Regions from separate parts of the Homo sapiens genome. Here all the other regions are linked to region 1. Evidence: fine-mapped QTL for protein levels in blood plasma. A gene starts in region 1. Each other region holds a variant in brackets. All regions are shown on one strand. Distances are between the middles of the regions.

Evidence for each region. A credible set is the group of variants that fine-mapping cannot tell apart. PIP is the posterior inclusion probability: the model's chance that the variant is causal. Protein levels are from antibody-based Olink assays in UK Biobank. Linkage for the fine-mapping came from a reference panel and not from the study's own genotypes, which makes the PIPs less certain.
Region 2: its variant is the best candidate, but not a certain one, in a credible set for the plasma level of the KIAA0319 protein (UK Biobank, PIP 0.71).
Region 3: its variant is the best candidate, but not a certain one, in a credible set for the plasma level of the KIAA0319 protein (UK Biobank, PIP 0.85). The variant lies in the coding sequence of KIAA0319. If it changes the protein, the assay may bind it differently, which can mimic a change of level.

What each region holds. Positions count from the first base shown.
Region 1 is chr6:24,642,853-24,649,645 of GRCh38, forward strand. KIAA0319 reads right to left here and starts at 3,339. Exons shown (of 21, transcript NM_014809.4): 1 at 2,884-3,339. RefSeq lists a silencer at 3,184-3,393.
Region 2 is chr6:24,621,320-24,628,112 of GRCh38, forward strand. All of the region lies in intron 1 of KIAA0319, which reads right to left. Among named protein-coding and RNA genes, the nearest start is that of KIAA0319, 21 kb to the right of the region's middle. The variant A/T (reference allele first, on the strand shown) is at 4,015.
Region 3 is chr6:24,562,506-24,569,298 of GRCh38, forward strand. It overlaps KIAA0319, which reads right to left. Exons shown (of 21, transcript NM_014809.4): 13 at 6,276-6,424; 14 at 4,092-4,243; 15 at 1,697-1,835; 16 at 854-1,013. Among named protein-coding and RNA genes, the nearest start is that of ALDH5A1, 71 kb to the left of the region's middle. The variant G/A (reference allele first, on the strand shown) is at 4,220.

The sequences.
Region 1 (6,793 bases):
GCCCACCACTATGCCTGGCTAATTTTTGTATTTTTAGTAGAGATGGGGTTTCACCATGTTGGCCAGGCTGGTCTCGAACTCCTGACCTCAGGTGATCCGTCCATTTCGGACTCCCAAAGTGCTGGGATTATAGGCATGAGCCACCGCGTTCCCAGCCTCCTTTGCTTTTTTGAACTTAAGGAAAAGAATGACCAGCAAGTTGGCAGGCAGGATAATTCTACAATATTATTTAGAAGGAAAAATAACTAAAACTTGAACACTATTATCTTTACCTACTGGTGTCATTTAAGCAGCTCTACTTTAAAACTTAAACACCTACTGTTAAAAGACCCTGCAAAATGATGATGCCAGATGTTACTCTGGCTCAACCATTTTTATTGTTTAATACAAATAAATGAGAAAATATTTTCTTATTATTGAATTCACATGAATAGTGTCTAAAGGTACAGATTTTTAAAGACAAATAGAAAAATAACCTACACTATTCGGGTAATGGGTACACTAAAAGCCCAGACTTTGACACTACACAATATATCCACATAACAAAACTGCACTTGTACACTCTAAATCTATAAAAAAAATTTTAAAAACAAATAGAAAAATAACCTACCAATTATTCTAGGCCTACTAAAGCAAAGCTCCTTCCTTGGGGGTATTAAGCTACCAGAATATTAAATTGACATGATTTTATGATTTTGATTATTATATTTATTATTGTTGCTGTTATAAAGGTGCTGCAAGGAAAAATTTATGCATTTTATGATGATTTGATATCATAAATCAGAACAAGCTTTGGACATGTCAAAATAAATCTATTTTTTAGTACCAAATTATTTTTAAGGTATGAAAAATATTTCCTGAAAAAGAACACATCTCAAAAATAACAACACTTATTGAAGCGTTACTATTAAAACATGCCAGGCAATGAGCAAAGATCTCTTAAACATATTATTGTATTTAATTCTTACAGGAATTTCGTTAAGTAGGTCCCATTGTTATCTCTATTTTACAGGTGAGGAAACTGAGCCTTAGAGGGTTTAGAGAATTTGCCAAATGTGAGACAGCCACTAAGTGGCAGAGCCACGCCCAAACCCACACCCTCTGACCTGGCAATCTGCAGCACTCCGTTCCAGAAACGGGCATACCTGGCTCTACATACAGCAGTGCCTCAATAACATAGTTTCATTCAACGTTGGTGACAAAAAAATTCCTGGCCAGGGCCACTGTCTATGTGGAGTCTGCTCATTCTCCTCATGTCTGCGTGGGTTTTCTCTGGGCTTCGGTTTCCTTCACATCCCAAAGCTGTGCATATGTCTACATGGTCCCCGTCTGAGTGAGTGGGTGTGTCTGTGAAAGTGCACCCTGTGATGGGATAGCTTCCTGGACAGGGGAGAGGGGGGGGTTCCCACTCTGAACCAGGGAGACTCTGGCTACCCATGACCTTGAACTGTAATAATTGGGTAAATAATGATCTTGTTTTTACTAATCCTTCTTAACTGTATGTATAGATCCCATTTATTTCTATGTTTAATATTAGAAGTGTTGTGGTCTTTATTTAGAAGTTTGGTGATTTTTTTATGACCAGAAATATGCTGTAGGAACTTAACTCTTGTTTATATCAATTAGCCTGTGGTAAAATTGGTTTCCTTATACCTCGTTGTGCTTAAAGGTTCACAGTTTCCAAGAACGTATCAAGAATGTTAAGTGAGGACTTACTGTATTTATTTAAAGAGAATGCTTCCTATCTATTGGCTAGGGAAAAAAAAAAAGTCAAGAAAATTTAACAGCAACTCTATTCTTTTACATTCATACATTACCAAAGCTCTCTTTTGGCTATTTTTAATTCATAAAGATTTTGGCTGAATTATTTTCATTATTTCGAAACAAAAATTAAGTTCTTGCCTCGGCATTTTGCATTACAAATGCAAATGCATTACAAATGGTTAATACAAATAAATCAGAGTACTTAGGTAATATGTTTACATTTCCCTTTTTCAAATTACAGAGGAATTCACCTTTCTCTGTGACTCCTACGTCTATAACTGAACTGACACCTCCAGTTTTCCTCATCTGAATTAAAAATAATACTAAAAAAAGCACAAAATAAAAGTTTAGATTTGGCATAACTTTAGTAGTCTCTACAATTGTGGTCTTCTTATAATAAATTGAAGCATTTGGAAAGTGAGCATGTATTTCAGGAATAAAGAAATAAATACCAACATTTACTTCCAAAATTCTTGTGTGTGGGGGGGAACATTGTCTACAATTTATTTTTTCTGTTACTATCAAAAACATCATTCAACTTTTCAATTCAAGCAGTGGAAAAAATACTAACATTTCACCGACAAACAAAAATGTTTTGATGAACAAACCAGCAATAAAAGTGCACATGAGTATGTATATCATATTTTTCCTCCTTGTATTTAATTAACAAATGACCTTAAGATGATAACTCTCAAAATTTCAGGTTTATCCTCCCGATTAATTTGTGACATTCCTTGGAGGGAATTCAAAGGGAAGAAGAGAAAGATTTTAAGCTTCAGGTTATGGTAAGGAACAGAGACAAAATGCATTTAGCAAATAATAGGAAAGATCACATAAATAGTTCTGAATGAAGTTTAAAGAAAACGATTCCTTACTTCTAAAAAAATGCAATTCGTGAGGTTGGGAAAAGACACTCAAATTTCCCCGACTCCACCCTACTAGTCAACAATCAGTGCAGCAATCAAAAAATGCCCTTTCCTGAATGCCCAGAAGAATCTTAAGAAACTCACCTTCTGAACTCAGGGCGTCTCGATTCTACTTTTGTTGGGTATTGGCCTGCCTACTGGCTGCCCTCTTTCCTATTTCTCGGCCAGGCGCTCTGGGAAGTAGATACCGTACCTGTGGTCACTGCTGGCGACACTGAAGCTCGCCCCATGCGTTGCTGCTGGCCCTGAGCATCACTCGCCGTCCCACTTGTTCCTCCTCGTCGTCATCGCAGGTCTTACACACACACACACACACACACACACACACACACACACACACACACACGTTCACACCCTCGCGCGCGCACCTGCTGTTAAGAGGTACAGCCCCACCCCAGCAAAATCCTCGCTTCCTCTTCCCCGGGACGTAGCCCCAGAGGAGCGAATCTGGACCAAGCCCAAGACAGGCTGAAGCTACTGCTGCGCTCTCACCTCCGGCAGTGACAGCGAGCGCCGCCGCCGCTCTGCGCGGGGCCAGCCAGGCCCGCCGAGGGCAGCACAGGTGGAGCAAGGTTGCACCCCCGGGGGATCCCCGCCCACCGCCCGCGGCAGCTTCTGCAGGCTCGGGGAAAGCGCGCGCCAGTGATTCAGCGCCTTTCCGCCGCCGCGGTTACCACGGCGACGCGCGCGCACGCGCACACACGCCCTCAGGGATGTGGGGCGCGGCAGCCGCCCCTGCCCAGCTCCCCTGCTCAGCTCCCCTGCTCAGCTCCCCGGTTGCGCTCTAAGTACCCGCACCGGGGCGACACACTCCCACCCCGCAGGGGACCAAGCAAAAGTCTTTCGTGAACCTGAGCGGCCTTCATACCCTACCTGCTTTCCTTCACCAAGCCCTTCCCTGTCACCGTGGCCCTAAACAGTCTGGGGGATGAACACTCCTTCCAAATAAACACCCGGGCCAGGGTGGCTCAAGGGAGCCGTGGGTGCACTGCCTGGGTCAAACACCCTTCGCGAATGTGTCCCCCAGCTTGTCCCCAGCTTGTGTCACCCCAGCTACACAAGTTCCATTCTTCCAGTGGGAGTCTCTTTGGCCCCTACTCTGTAATTATCTTTCTATTTTGAGCAGGTGCTTTCTGACTGAGACTGGGAACCTGTGCTAGGAGGGGCTCCCATCACCTCCAGGCCTTGCAGGTTAACTGGATGCCCAGTATAGTTTGACATTTGCATCTTGAGGAACGTGATAATCTAAACCACAGAAAACTTGGGTGGAAGACTCTTGCATTTTTACTGTTTTAATAAAGATGCGAAAGCATCTAGGGATAATATCATGAGCAGAAAAGGTAGCCAGGGCATTCCTCGCACATCTCATTACTAGGAGGTATAAGTGCAGTGCTTAGGGCTGAGTCACACACTGTTGATGAATAAGCTTCTTGGCTACTCGTATTTACCGAAGAGCCTCAGACAAGTTACCTAATCTAGATAAACCTGTTTCCTCAATTATAAAATGAAGATAATAGCATTCATATAGGATGATTCTGGGAATCAAATAAGATAATGCACATTTAAAGAGTAAAAACCAGCTGGGTGCGGTGGCTCACGCCTGTAATCCTAGCACTTTGGCAGGCCGAGGCGGGCGGATCACGAGGTCAGGAGATCGAGACCATTCTGGCTAACACGGTGAAACCCCCGTCTCTACTAAAAATACAAAAAATTAACCGGGAGTGGTGGCCCGCGCCTGTAGTTCCAGCTACTTGAGAGGCTGAGGCAGGAGAATCGCTTGAATCCAGGAGGCGGAGGTTGCAGTGAGCCGAGATCGTGCCACTGCACTCCAGCCTGGGCGACAGAGCAAGACTCCGTCTCAAAATAAATAAATAAATAAATAAATAAATAAATAAATAAATAAATAAATAAATAAAAACTAAAGAGTAAAAACCTGTCCAGGACTCAAAGAGTGAAAATCAGCTTGGACTTGGAAAAGTTAGTACTGCCAATGATCAATGATCAGGCTGAGAGGACAAAGTCAGAAGCAAAATTAACAGGCAATGTTGTTTCCTCTGAAGTCACGCAGCAGGTACAAAACAACACAACTCCTTGTGTTCCATTTTTGAATGACTACTACTTTCTACCTTTGCTTTACTATTCCCATCCATAACTGGGGATACCCAATTGCTAAACTCCCTTCACCTCCTGACAGCACCCAATCCCTCATTAATCCCCCTTTCTCTCAATCTGCCTCAGAAACAGCAACCAACTGGATCCCAGCTCTGATTCCAAGACTCTCCCTGGAATCCTTTAATAGGAAGCCAAATCTTTACAAAAGACACTTCCTCCTTTCTGTGCTCACATGGCATTCCACAGGTACTCTTTCAATGCATCAAGCCAATGAATCTGATTTTGTCCCCAACGATCCTTGGCTGATTAGCCTTTAAAGAAACATATTTTTAGCACATACACACACACACAGGCTTAGCCCAGAATGTTTAACTATACCATCTTTTTAACTCAGAGACACTGTAATGAATATCTATTTTCATTTTTAATGAATATATCTATTTTGGTATTGTATGAAAATGTTAGTCTCCTTCTTTAGGACACAGATGTGAGGCTACTACCTTTCACTTCTTTTCAGCATTCAGTGGACATCCATTGAGCTCCTACTATATGCCAGACACTGCAAGAGGTAGTAAGGATAAAATGATGTATCCTTAGTATAATTAACTTTGTCTGCTCTTGCTTATGCTTTTGGTTGGGACATTTGTACAATAAAAGATAACTTATTTTGAGGGTGGGTAAAACTGAGGTTTAGGAAGGTTAAAGTACATTCCACATCAGTGGTAAAAATGGTGCTTAGCGTAATGACAGTGCTGCCTCATTGAAATACAAGACTTTAGGCCACGTACAGTGGCTCATGCCTATAATCCCAGCACTTTGTGGGCGAGGCAGGAGGATTGAGTGAGCCCCGGAGTTCGAGGCCAGCCTGGGCAACATAGCAAGATCCTCTCTGTACAAAAAACAAAAACAAATAAAAAGTAGCTGGGTGTGTGGTGCACACCTGTAATCCCAGCTACCCAAGAGTCTGAGGCTAGAGGATCACTTGTGCCCAGGAGGTTGAGACTGAAAAAAAAAAAAAAAAAAACCCAGAAGATTCTATGTTGGAATTTCACTAAGCAGGAAGGTAAGGCAAGCAAAGCTACTACACTGGAAAAACTTTGAAAAATTCCAAGTAAAAAACTCAAGATATAGCAAATTAGTAGGTTAATTCATTGATAACTATTGCTCATGAAAGCAGACTAAAAGTGGTTTTTTTTGAGACAGTCTTGCTCTGTCGCCCAGGCTGGAGTGCAGTGGCACGATCTCGGCTTACTGCAACCTCCGCCTCCCAGGGTCAAGTGATTCTCCTGCCTCAGCCTCCTGAGTAGCTTGGATTACAGGCACGTGTCACCACGCCTGGCTAATTTTTGTATTTTTAGTAGAGATGGGGTTTCACCATGTTGGCTAGACGAGTCTTGAACTTCTGACCTCAGGTGATCCACCTGCCTCGGCCTCCCAAAGTGCTGGGATTACAGGCATGAGCCACTGCACCCAGCCGATAATCCTTTATTTAATCTAGTATACTACACTGTATTTTTTTTTTAAGAATTTAGACTTTCACCCATCTATGTTTTGCAATGTGATCTGAAGTTCTAACTTAGCTCTTCTAAATGAAAGCAATTTATGCCAGAATAACCCTTTTCCCACAGAAATGTACTATTGTATTACCTCTATGATGTATGCTACTCTACTATTAACATCTATTCTCATTTTTTATTTTATTTTTGAGATGGAGTCTCACTCTGTTGCCCAGGCTGGAGTGCAGTGGCACGATCTTGGCTCACTGCAAGTTCTGCTTCCTGGGTTCGTGCCATTCTCCTGCCTCAGCCTCCTGAGTAGCTGGGACTACAAGCACTCGCCATCACGTCCGGCTAATTTTTTGTATTTTTAGTAGAGACAGGGTTTCACCGTGTTAGCCAGGATGGTCTCGATCTCCTGACCTCGTGATCCACCCGCCTCAGCCTCCCAAAGTGCTGGGATTACAGGTGTGAGCCACTGCACCCGGCCCTCAT
Region 2 (6,793 bases), 22 kb before region 1:
TATTGAAGCTTGAGAGAAGCAGGGTGTTGCAGCAACAGACCAAGCCCCCAAGTGTTCATTAAAAAGAGAATTGAGCTCTCTAAAGAGGCAGATCATGGAGACAAGAACCACCATTATTCCAGGGGACATCCAGAGACACAGCCCACACAAAAAATATATTCATATTAATCTATCTGGGAGGAAATTGGCATCATTAAGAAAATCTTGGAAAGCTCAAAATAAAAAAGAAAACTTTCTAGTTCAATATGGCAGATAGATGTATATCCAGCTCTCCTCTTTCCTGTGCATGGTCTTACTGGGGGGAAAAACTGTGAGGGGAGGCAAACAGGACATAAGAACAGACAAAAGAAAATAAACCATAACAACACAGGAAAATAAGAATGGACATCATTAATAGACCAATCATTTCAAAGAATTCCTGGAAGATAGAAAGCAGATGGCATGGCTCTGACTGGAAAGGAAGAGAGGAAACTCATTTCCTAGAAAAAGGAAGAACAGCACTTTTGGTGACAGCACTGGAGAAGCTCCAAGCCCTGAGCCAATGGATGCAAAGAGACAGAACCGGCCAAGGCACAATCGTTGGGGTGATCACCAAACGAAAAACAGATCTCAAGCTAAAGCCAGAGAACTGCTCTCTCAAGAGACGGAGATCTACCTCCATGGGGCCCTGGTGGCAGCACTGGGCCTGGGAGAAAAGGAGAGTCAACAGAGTCTGCGAATGCACAGCTCTGCCCTGGAATGAAATCTACTTTATTCTGAAGCACCACACCTCTAGGCAGAGCTCTCCTTCCAGTGGCTGCCTGGGGAGTGCTCACCCGTACACCCCAGAGGGAAACCTGACCAGACACCTCCCACTCATGCACTCAGATGCCACAGCAAGCCTCACATGAATCAATGAGTGGACAGCTACGTCAGAAAGCAGCCAAGTATCCTGATCAGTGGAGCCCCTCACAGATCAAAAGGAACAGGCAACCAAGGACTGCTAGACATTTGAGAAATTAAAAAAAAAAAAAAAAAAGAACATGAAAAAGAAAGGCTATGATAAACAAATAGAAGATTAAAGGAACAAAGAAAAACTTTAAACCACAATTAATATCAATAATTAAAATAGTAATTAGTATCTTTGGAAAAATTTGAAAGGATATTGCCTCCATAAAACAAAAATAGGCTGCTACAAATGAGGGGCAAAAATCAGAGAACAAGAAAAATTATTGGAAATTCAAAATAGGATTGTTAAAATTAAAACCTCAGTGAACAAGTGGAATAACTGTTGATAATGCTAGCAGCTAATATATATTAAGTACCTCCTATGTGTTAGGCCCAGGATCTGTTCTTCGCATTTTAAACATCCTAACATACCTAATAATCAAACTAACCCAGTGAGGCAGGTACTATTATTCTCCCCATCTCACAGGTGAGGAAACAGAGTTAAAGAGATTAATGGCTGGGCACGGTGGTTCACACCTGTAATTTTAGCACTCTGGGAGGCCGAGGCGAGAGGATCACTTGAGATCAGGAGTTCGAGACCAGCCTGGCCAACGAAACCCTGTCTCTACTAAAAATACAAAAATTAGTCGGACATGGTGGCAGGTGCCTGTAATCCCAGCTACTCGGGAGGCTGAGGCAGAAAAATTACTTGAACCCAGGAGATGGAGGTTGCAGTGAACAGAGATTGTGCCACTGCACTCTAGCCTGGGCAACAGAGTGAGGCTCCATCTCATTAAAAGAAAAAAAAAAGAGAGAGAGAGAGAGATTAAGTCACTTGCTCAGACAGCTAAAAATTAGCTAAGTCAGAATTCAAAGTCAAGCTATCTGGCTCCAGAACACCTGTTCTACGTGGCTGAAGGCAAGTTACAGATTTGAAAGGTAGATGTGAGGACATTCCCCTAGTGTGCACATGAACACAAACACACACATACACGCACACACACAAAGACAAAGGAAAAGAAAATATGGGGCAATGTTAGAAGGCATAGGGGAGAGTCCAGAATTTTCATCATCTAGCTAAGAGGCATTATAGGAAGAAAGAACAGAGACAATAGAGGGGAAGAAGTGAAGAAATAATAGAACAAAATTTCCTTTAAATGAAGAAAACCAGTCTTCAAATTAAAAGGGCCTACATAGTACAAGCAGGCAAGCAGGATATATGGCCTAGACATCTTGATAAAAGTTAAGAACTCCAAAAGTTCTTAAGGACATACCCTAAAATCTTCCAAAGAGAAAAAAAATAGGTTACCTTCAAAAGAACCAGAATCACAGAGCAGCATCATATTTCTCATAGGCATTAGTGGAACAACGAGGGCAATGGAGGAATTCAAAATTCTAAGGGGGATGAAGAGGATTGGTGAATGGGTACAAAATACAGTTAGAAGGAATAAGTTCCAGCGTTTGATAGCAAAGTAGGGTGACTATAGTTAACAATAATTTATTGTGCATTTCAAAATAGCTAAAAGAGAAGATCTGGAATGTTCCCAACATAAAGAAATGATAAATATTTGAGGTGAGAGGTGATGATATCCCAGTTATCCAAATTGATCATTATACATTGTATGCTTGTGTCAAAACATCACATGTACCCCATAAATGTGCACAATGATTATGTATCCACAAAAATCCATAAAAGTTAAAAACTTTAATATATACAATATAATACATCTTTAAATTCTAAAGAAAAATAATTTTGAATTTCTTTGTTTTCTTTTTTTTTTTTTTTTTTTTTTTTTTAGACAAGGTCTCACTCTATCACGCAGGCTGGAGTGCAGTGGTGCAATCTTGGCTCACTGCAGCCTCTGCCTCCTGGGTTCAAGCAATCCTTCCACCTCAGCCTCCTGAGTAACTGGGACAACAGGTGTACACCACCACACCTAGCTAATTTTTGGGGTTGTTTTTTTTTTTTTTTTTTTGTAGAGACAGGGTTTCATCATATTGCCCAGGCTGGTCTAGAACTTCTGGGCCCAAATGACCATCTACCTCGGCCTCCCAAAGTTTGGGATTACAGTTGTGAGCCGCCATGCCAGGCCTTGAATTTCTTTATTGCACAAACTATCTATCAAACATGTAAACAAAATCAACATATTTTTGAACATTTGAAAACTCAGAATATTATCACCTGCATACAAATAAAAATTTTTTTGGAGGAGGTATTCCAGCAAAATGAAAAATGAATCCAAGAAAGAATGATGAAATACATGATATATAAGAAACAATAGCAGCTAAGTGTAATGCAGAAGAAGGAAAACATTGAGGAAAAAATAGAAAATGATCTATTAGAAGATAATTGGAAGAACCTTGTGCTGGGACCTTGACACTCAGAATTCATCTGCACAGCTTCATATAGCCCCTACCCTCATCTCCTCTAGGGAAGGGGATGGAAAGGTGAAAATTACATTTCTCAACATCCCTGTACCTAAGGATCTGAATGTTATTCAGGTTCTGCCAATGAAATGCATTCAAGTGAGATTTGGAAGTCGGACGTGAAGCCCTGACTCCCATATTTCCTTCTACATGCAATGTAATGTGGGCTGAACAATGGAACCTGGAGTGCGGTGCCACATGATCCTGTCCTATTCAAGATTTCTGCCCAGCCTTAAGAGTTGTACAATATGGTTAGGCTCTTCAGCCTGTAATCCCACCTACTCAGGAGGCTGAGGGAGGAAGATGGCTTGAGTCCAGGAGTTCAAGGCTACAGTGAGCTATAGCTGCACCACTGCATGCCAGCATGGGCAACAGAATGAGCTCCCCTCTCTAAAAAACAGAAACAATAAATAAAAGAATTGTATAATACAGTACCCCATAACTTCTGTTTTTTTTATTTCTATAAAATTGTCTGCCAAATAGAACAAGAATAAAACTGGTGTTAGGAAAATTGCTTTTCAGATAAATGACAAAATTAGAATCCCAACTTCATACCATATACAGTATAAATTTACATGAATTAAAGGCCTAAATGTGAAATGCAAAGCTTTAAAACTATTAAAAGTAAATGTAGCAGAAATATCTTTCTAACCACTGATT[A/T]GGGATGGATTTATTAACAAGACCCAAAAAGCAAACATTATAAAGAATATATTTAAATATATATATGTGTATTCATTCTCAAATATTTATTGATACAACTTGATAAACAGAGTCTATGGAAATCCATAGCTAACATCATATATAATTGTGAAAGCCTGAAAAGCTTTGCCCCTAAGATCAGGAAGAAGACAAGGATTTTGCTCTCACCACTTCTATCCAACATTGTACTGGAGGTTCTAGCCAGGCCAATTAGGAGAGAAAGCAAATAAAAGCATCCAGATTGGAAAGGAATGTGTAAAACTATGTCTATTCACAGATAACATGATCTTATATACAGAAAATCCTAAGGAGTCCACAAAAATATGACTAGAGTTCAGCAAGGATGATATGAAAACAACATACTAAAGTCAATTGTATTTCTACACATTAGGAATGAATGAGCTGAAAACAAAATTAAGAAAAGAATTCTGTATACTAACATACTAACAGCATCACAAAGAGTAAGTACTTAGGAATAAATTTAACAAAAGAAGTATAAGTCTTGTACAGTGGAGACTGTAAAACATCATCAAAAGAAGTAAAGACAACCTAAATGAATGGAAATAACTCAAATGCCCATAGGCTTAAAATGGATAAACATATCATGGTATTATATATCTATCCGGTGGAATATTATTTGGCAATAAAAAAGGAACGGCATATCTACTACATCATGGATAAACCTTGACACCATTATGCTAAGTGAAAGAAATCAGACACAAGGACCACATTTTGTACCATTCTATTTACATGAAATGTCCAGAATACGCAAATCCATAGAGATAGAATGCAAATCAGTGGCTGCCAGTGGTGGGAAGGAATGGCATGTGACAGACTGTTTAAGCATCTGAGGATTTTTTAGAAGTGGTGAAAATGGGGCCGGGCTTGGTGGCTTGTGCCTGTCATCCCACAACTTTGGGAGGTCGAGATGAGAGAATCACTTGAGGGCAGGATTTTGAGACCAGCCTGGTCAACATAGCAAAATCCCGTCTCTACTAAAAATACAAAAATTAGCTGAGTGTGGTGGCACACACCTGTAATCCCAGCTACTCAGGAGGCTGAGGCACGAGAATCGCTTGAACCTGGCAGGTGAAGGTTGCAGTGAGCAGAGATCGTGCCACTGCACTCCAGCCTGGGCAACAGAGCAAGACTCGCTCTCAAAAAAAAAGGGGGTGAAACTGTTTTGAAATTGATGGTTGGATAACTGTGAATATACTAAAAGCTACTGAATTTTATACTTTACATGGGTAAATGTTCTGATATGGGAAATATATCTCAATGAAGCTAACATTTTAAAAAGAAAATGTATTGAACACCTATGTTTGCAGGGCACTATTCTAGTTTGTGAGGATATAGCAGTGAATAAAAAGGTTCCCTTTGGGAGTTTCCATTCCAGTGGAAGGGCCACATAAATTGTCCCAAGATACCCAAGGAATTTTGAGGTTTTATTGTGCAATTAGTTTTGGTAAACTGTGCAGAATAATGATGAAAAAGAGAATTTCCAGAAGCTAGGCGGCTTCTGGAACAAAAGTTCCAATTTGCAGGAAGGTAATAAGGTTATTTACAGAAATGGCAAGTTAAGACCTAGGTGCCAAACTCCAGCAACATTCTAGAGTGAGTTATTGAACAGATAATTCATGAGCACTTCACAAAGACATTAGTGACCAATTTATAAGTGCGGTCTTAAAAAAAGCAGGGCAGGCCAGCAGAACTCAATTGTTTTTCTTTCTACTTTTCTATATTTTCCAAATTTTCCATAATGATAACATGTAATATATCTTAGTAACAAAAGGGGACTTCACATACTTTTTAGATGGCTGTTGTTCCCATGTTGTTAGATCAACAGAATGCTGTAAGAATTATGGGCTGGCAGGCTCTCCCAAGACATCCTTATGTGTACAGTGCAGAAATGCGCTGGGGATGATGTTACAATTAGAGATCACTGTCAACAGGTGGTAATGTGCTACCTGATAACCTCCTGGTCAAAATTTCTGCTGAGGACTTAGTGCTCAGTCATAGCCATGGAAAGAATGAATTGGGAGGGAAGGTGATTAGGTCTTAGTGAGCATTTTCCCTCCCTCCCTTCCTTCTTTCCTTTTTTTCCTCCCTCCTTCCCTCCTTTCCTCTCTCCCTTCCTTCCTTGTTTTCTTCTGAAAGACATGATTATGGTCTGATAAACAGAGGTCAGAATTAGGGAACAAATGATACAGTGAGGAATTCACAGCAAGGGCCTACCTAGGTCATGAGCTGTGGCCCTAGCAGAATAAAGAAATGAACACGATGTGTAGCCTGAAAACTGGAATTTACCTCAAGCACCAAAGTAACCTTTCCTACTCCGTAAATGGGAAAAGAGGCCAGGACTTCCAGCAATCTTCTTACTGGTTTCAGTTCAGGGACTAACATTATGGTCTTAAAAGTACAGATAATTATCTAATGAACTGTTAATTAATCCACAGAAGACAATCTAGAAGAGGAATATTTGTGTGCATCATTTATAGTCACTATTCAAAAATTATTAAACTACTCAAATAACAGCATAAATGTTCACCAGAAGAATGCTGAAGACATGTCCTGAATGTAGGAGCCTCCTTCCAAATACTGCTTATTCTAGGGCAAAATGAACTGAGTAATTGTGCTAATGAAAAGTTAGACATTATTCATCATTGCTTCCAGGTTTTATATTATTTCAAGCACACGTAGTGCTGGAAAGCATGTCCTAATAATTACAGAACATGGGCAA
Region 3 (6,793 bases), 80 kb before region 1:
CTCCCTCCTCCCACTCCACCCTGAGCTAGATAAGACTTTAAAAGTAAAATTCAGCCAGGCATGGTTGCTCACACTTATAATCCCAGCACCCTGGGAGGCCTAAGTGGGCGAATCACTTGAGGTCAGGAGTTTGAGACCAGCCTGGTCAACAAGATGAAACCCTGCCTCTACTAAAAATACAGAAATTAGCCGGGTATAGTGGGGGCACCAGTAGTCCCAGCTACTCAGGTGGCTGAGGCAGGAGAATCACTTGAATCTGAAAGGCGGAGGTTACAGTAAGCTGAGACCATGCCACTGCACTTTAGCCTAGGCAACAGAGCGAGACCCTGTCTCAAAAAATAAAAATAAAATAAAATAATAAATAGATTAAATAAATAAAACTCAATTAAATACAAAGATGTCATGAAAAATAAAGGCCAGAGTTTCAGCCTCATATACTCCCAGGAGATGGCAAATGGTAATCAGTGATCCTTTCACATTGAGAGAAGCCTCAGTCCCCATGAACGTGGGGCAGGGATGCAGCCCAGCTGTGAGACATCCTCTTCACATGCTCCAGACCCCTTGCCCAGCTCTGAAGACACCAGAGCTAACAACCGTCTCCCCTGCTGTTCCCCAGCACCTCCTTCACTCAGAACATTCCCAATCAGCAAACATTTACTGAGAATTTTAGGAAGGACCTAGCATGATGTTGGCCATACTACTGCCCTTTGAGAAAAAAAGTATATGAATGGGATAAAAGTGTGTCAAAAATACAAAAGTAGCAGAGGAATGAACAGTTTTCTACTGGACTGGGATGAGGTAAGAGCTGGAATTTTGTACGGCCAAGGCCCCGCCTTGAGTGTGCAGCTCCTACCTGAGATCCGAGTGGGCCCGAATCTTCTGGACCTTAATGTCCGAGTCCAGCACGTTCAGCAGCACAGCCAGCTGCCTCACAAGGGTGTCCTTCCGCTGCTCTGTCAGCTGCCCAACACCAACCTGCAGGGTCAGCTCCACCAGGCCACTCTTCCTAGGGTCTGGGGAAAGAGAAGATACAGGATTTGCACTTGGACATTTGCACAGGCTTTAGAGCATAAGGAGCGAGGTTTCTATAGGAGCTCAAAGTTACTCCTATGCCATTTCTACATTTGAGTTGTAGCACTCAGGTAAATTCTTCTAAACACCGCAAAGGCCACTATCTGGGAGTACTTTCCCTTGTTTTATCACAGTTTGTTGTTTATAATTTTTTTTCCAGAAGATAATCGGGTGTACCTAATTAGCCTCTGGGCTAGCTGAAAATTTCAGCCTCTTCCACATTTTCCCAGGACCAGAAAGAGAATTTTGCTTCCAAGTGCCAATGGGCACTTCCCAGTCCAGTTTATGCTGAGGTCGTTACAGCCACTTCACTGGAGCTGCCTCCCTCTGTGCCCTGGTATGAGGCCCTTGTGTCCACTTCACATTAAGTCTTTGTCTTCTGGCAGGAAAACAAACATGAAAAGAAAATCTAGTTGCCAGATAACATTCTCTTTTAAAGAGTGATGAGGCTGGATCTATCTGGGGATACACAACAAGGTGTAAGAGACATCCTCAAAGTGGGTCCAGCCAAGAGCTGGAGCCAGCCACAGGAGGCCTCCCACACTGGTCACATCTGTCAGCGTAAAGACCCCAAAGGCTGACCAGCCAGAGCCTGCATGGCCAGCTCCAGAGCCCAGGAACTCACCTGGCTGCACTTCCACAGTGGCAGTGTCTGTGTCCGAGGCCCCCTGACTGTCGGTGACTCGCAAGTGGAAAGTGTACACCCCCTCCACCAGATTCGTAAGCTGCAGAGCCACACTGTGGTCAGAGCCATCGATGACATCCTGCGAAAGAACACGGATCACAGGGCAGCTGTCAATCCTCGGGTCCCAATTTCTGGGCTTCTGTTGATCCTAAACCTCAGTGTCCCATCTTTTTAACACAGGCGTGACTTTAAGAGGGAGGCTGCAGGGAATGAGGCTGGCGGGATAGCTAAAGACTGGAGAAATCCTCAGCATCTCTTCCCCAAAAAGCACCAGGGGGCACATCCTCAGACAGTATTTCCTGAACTGAACTAAGTTTACCAAGCACTTTCCAGGAATTACCAAATAATTAATTGTATCCAACAAAGGGAAAGACCATTTGAATTAGGGCAAGGACGCTGAGAACAAAGCACAGGTTTTCTGGGTCTTATTTTCAAACATAGCTTTACAAAACTCTCATCTTGAATTCCCTCATAATGTATCATGTTCACCTGAAATAACCCAAGACCCTGTGTAGCGTCCTCTGTTCTGTGGGCTTCTAAGCTCCAAAGAATGAGAGAAGAACCTCCCAGACTCCTGCTAATAGAAGGGGTGATAACGAATATGTGCTGTGAACAGAGACTCATTGTTATTACATTTAGAGGCTAATCCCCCATCTAGTTGAATAGTGTTAATTCTAGAAGTGCTTAGAAAGTATAAAGCATTTGGCAGGGCATGGTGGCTCACGCCTGTAATCCCACCACTTTGGGAGGCAAAGGCAGGCGGATCACGAGGTCAGGAGATCGAGAACATCCTGGCTAACAAGGTGAAACCCCGTCTCTACTAAAAATACAATACAAAAAAATTAGACAGGCGTGGTGGTGGGCACCTGCAGTCCCAGCTACTCGGGAGGCTGAGGCAGGAGAATGGCTTGAACCTGGGAAGTGGAGCTTGCAGTGAGCCTAGATCGCACCACTAAACTCCAGTCTAGGTGACAGAGCGAGACTCGGACTCAAAAAAAAAAAGTATAAAGCATTTTCAGTTCCTTCCCTGTGACCACTCCTTAGTACATCTCCAAGACTAAATCTGTATCTCTCCAGTCCTTAGAAATGGCAGGAATGAAGACGTACATACATTTATGTCCTAAGAGGCAGAGTGATCTAATGGGGGTAAAATGCCTGCCAGGAGCTAAAAACCTAGGTGTGTCTAGTTTGATTAAAAATGGATTAGTTAAGGCTGGGCGCGGTGGCTCACGCCTGTAATCCCAGTACTTTGGGAGGCCGAAGCGGGTGGATCACAAGGTCAAGAGATCAAGACCATCCTGGCCAACATGGTGAAACCCCATCTCTACTAAAACTACAAAAATTAGCTGGACGTGGTGGCACGTGCCTGTAGTCCCAGCTACGCGGGAGGCTGAGGCAGGAGAATAGCTCGAACTCGGGCAGCGGAGGTTGCAGTGAGCCGAGATTGCGCCACTGCACTACAGCCTGGGCGATAGAGTGAGACTCCATCTCAAAAAAAAAAAAAAAAAAAAAAGAACAAAAGAAATGGATTAGTTAACCTCGGCCAAGTCACTTCTCATCTCTGCATTTCGCCTTCTGCATCTATAAAACGTAAATAGCAATCCGTGATCTATTGACTCATCTGGTACAATATGAGGAACAGAAAAGAATCCACTTGGACCAAAATACGAAGGATGGAAAAGCATCCTGCTGGAAGACTTGACCTCAAAGTGCTTCCAAGCTATGGTTTCCTGCCCCATCCAAAGTCTGTTCAGGAAAAAGTCAGAAAGGATTTCAGCTTTTGGCTAAATCTCAAAGCAGCCTACTGCCTCCAGCCTTCAGAACATTCTAATGTAGAAGCATAAGCACCTTACAGGGAACAGGGAAAGAGAGATGAGGTCATTATAGAGACACTGCCGTGGACCGAACTGTGTCTTTCCCAGACTCCTGTGTTGAAGCCCTAACCCCATATGACTGTATCTAGAAATAGGACCTATAAGGAAGTAGTTAAGGTTAATTGAGGTCATAAGGGTAGGCCCCTGATCCAATAGGATTTACTGTCCTTATAAGAAGAGACACCAGAGTGCTCTCTCTTCCCCTGCTATGGGAGGACATGGTAAGAAGGCAGCTGTCTGCAAGCCAGGAAGAAAGACCTCACTGGAAACTGAATTAGCCAGCAACTTGAGCCTGTCTTCCCAGCCTCCATAATGGAGACAAAATTAAGTTCTGTTGTTTAAGCCTCCTTATACTTATATCCTTTCCTTAGAATATACCGTGATATATTGTTTGCAGCCCAAGCTGACTAATGCAGATGTAATGATAAGTGGTCTAGGAGCAATTCTCTCTCAGTACTCACTCCAGCTGCTGGACTCTGGCCATCCCGGATCCACAGATAGGACACAATTCTTTGGTCATCAGTAGACCTTGAACCATCCAAAGTAATGGAATTATTGGGAAGCACAAGAACATGTCTGCCACCAGCCC[G/A]GGCTCTGGGAGGACTATTATTTTCTAAGTCAAATATAGCAAAATGAAAGCAAAGAGATTGATTTAAAACACCAGTGATAGAATAAGTGTGTCATAAAACATCCACAACTCTTCCACCTTGCAGATACAGTATGTAGAATTAAAATATCCAAAAAGGCATTTTTTTCCCCAGATGCATATAAGATACAGACTTCCTTAAAGCTCCATTTGTACTTAGTTAGCTATAATTTGGGATGAAAACGGTAAAGCAGGTGGCAAGCTGTACCTTGGGAATTTTTCTAATATTGTTATACCTTTTCTGTCCTTGAAAAATAGAAACAATGATTTTACCAACATTTAGGGTATTGAAAGTGGCAATATTTTGGTTTACAATATACTTTGGGTCATTTTGTACTGGTCCACACTATCTGGCCAGAAATATTTCCACTTCAAGTACTGCCAAATCTTGACTCTCTAAGACAAAAAAAAAGAAAAAAAAAATTTGAGTAAAAAGTAGGCTGGGTGCAGTGGCTCACACCTGTAATCCCAGCACTTTAGGAGGCCAAAGCAGGAGAATCACTTGAGACCAGGAGTTTGAGACCAGCCGGGGCAACACAACAAGTCTCCATCTCTATGAAAAATTAAAAATTGAAATAATAACAATGATAATTAGGCCCTCACTTCTCTGACTAGGTGTTAAATATAAATGAGGCAATGGCCAGGCATGGTGGCTCATAACTGTAATCCTAACACTTGGGGAGGCTAAGGCAGGATGAGTGCTTGAAGCCAGAAGTTCAAGACCAGCCTGGGTAGCAAGACCCGTCTCCACACACACACAAAATTAAAAATCAGCTGGGCATGGTAACACACACCTGTAGACCCAGCTACTCAGGAAGCTGAGGTGAGAGAATCACTTGAGATCAGGAGTTTGAGGCTGCAATGAGCTATGATCACAGCACAGTACTCCAGTCCGAGCAACAGAGTGAGACCCTGGGTCTATTTTAAAAATAAAAAAATGAGGCAATGTAAAAGCCATTTCTGATGTAATAACTTCAGAAAAGAGGGGCCAGGGAGCACTAACAACACTGGGGTACAGTGGGGAGATCATAATAAGACACAGCCTCAATTTGGAGATGAGGCTGCTGTGAGGCAAATCCTGCTTGTCCAGAAGGGGCTCTGGGACCCAGCCTGATCCCTCCCAATTTCCCCTTAGAAACAAGTCAAGATGCCTGTTCAGACTATTCTCTCTACTTTTATGCATGGTTGAAAATCTCTACAATAAAATCTTTTGAAAAATCCAAATCTATATCACTTTGCTGTTAAAGTTGCTTCAGCCTCTCCCAGCTGCCCAGAGGATAAAGTCCAAACCCCTAAGCATGGCCCGTGGCACATACAACCCTCCATGGCAGAGCCTGTGCCTCAGGCTGCAGCCACTCTCCCAGCGTCCCACACTCTTGCCATTCTACAATGCTTGAACCTTTCCATCCAGCCAGGCTCTTATACTCCTCTGCACTTCAACACGTTGTAATCATCCATTCACTAATTCATTCAACACCTCTGATTTGCCATGAGTCTAGCACTCTGCTATACTGAGGCTATACTGAGGATACAGAGATGTCTGAAGCAAAGACACTCAGGCAGTTCACAGTCAAATGGGAAGACAGACAAGGAGACAAGTACCTAAAGCAGTATTCACTAGTCTAGACCACAGATTTCACACTAAGAAACGATATGGAATTTGAAAACATCTCTTTTCTTGAATTTCCAAGGAATAAAGGAAAAAAAGCATAATGGTGTCATTTGGACGTGGGTCTTTCATTACTAGTAGTCACAGAAGAGTGAAGTCATTAGAAGATATGCTCCACAAACAAAAGGAAATGTCTGCTTGCAGAGGGCGACTGAGAAACAGCTAACATGAATAGAAGAAAGTTGGCTTTTTTTCAGCCAGGCAGGGTTCGGCATCTGCTGCGAACAAATAAGCAAACACCAACATCTCTGAATAGTCATGGCCTGGCTGAGGGTCCTGCAGACTCGAAAGCAGAGCAGGCCCAGCCCTGTCCACCTCAGACCCACTCACCCTTCTTCACAGCCACAGTGAGGGTGGACGTGCTGCTCAGTCCCTGCTGGTCTTTCACTGTCAAACGGAAGTGGTAGGTCCCCACCTGGAGACCAGTCACAGTGGCTATTGCTTTGTCAATATTTTCCATCTCCACTGCACTGGGGCCTCTATAAAACATAGAAGTGGTTAACATAAGGGAGGGGGCATGGGGTTTTGAATATGACAGGCATGCGATTTGTGCTCTTATAAATGTTTTGTTCCAGCTATAATATATACCATTTAGAGAATTCTAAGAAAACTCCATTCATCTGTACTCTCTAGTTCAGTGTAAGAGTCACAAGCTAAAACCTATCTCAGGCAGAGTCTGCTGGATTACTGGGAAGAGAATATTTGTTCTCGATTTTTTTAAGTCAAGCTGCCAGTGAAATGATCTATCCTTGGAAAATGAGCCTTAGAAACGACTCCCATTTCTTCTTTGAATAAAATTAGGTGAAATCCTCATCTATCTTTAGGGAGAGCATGGAAGAGGAGGGAAT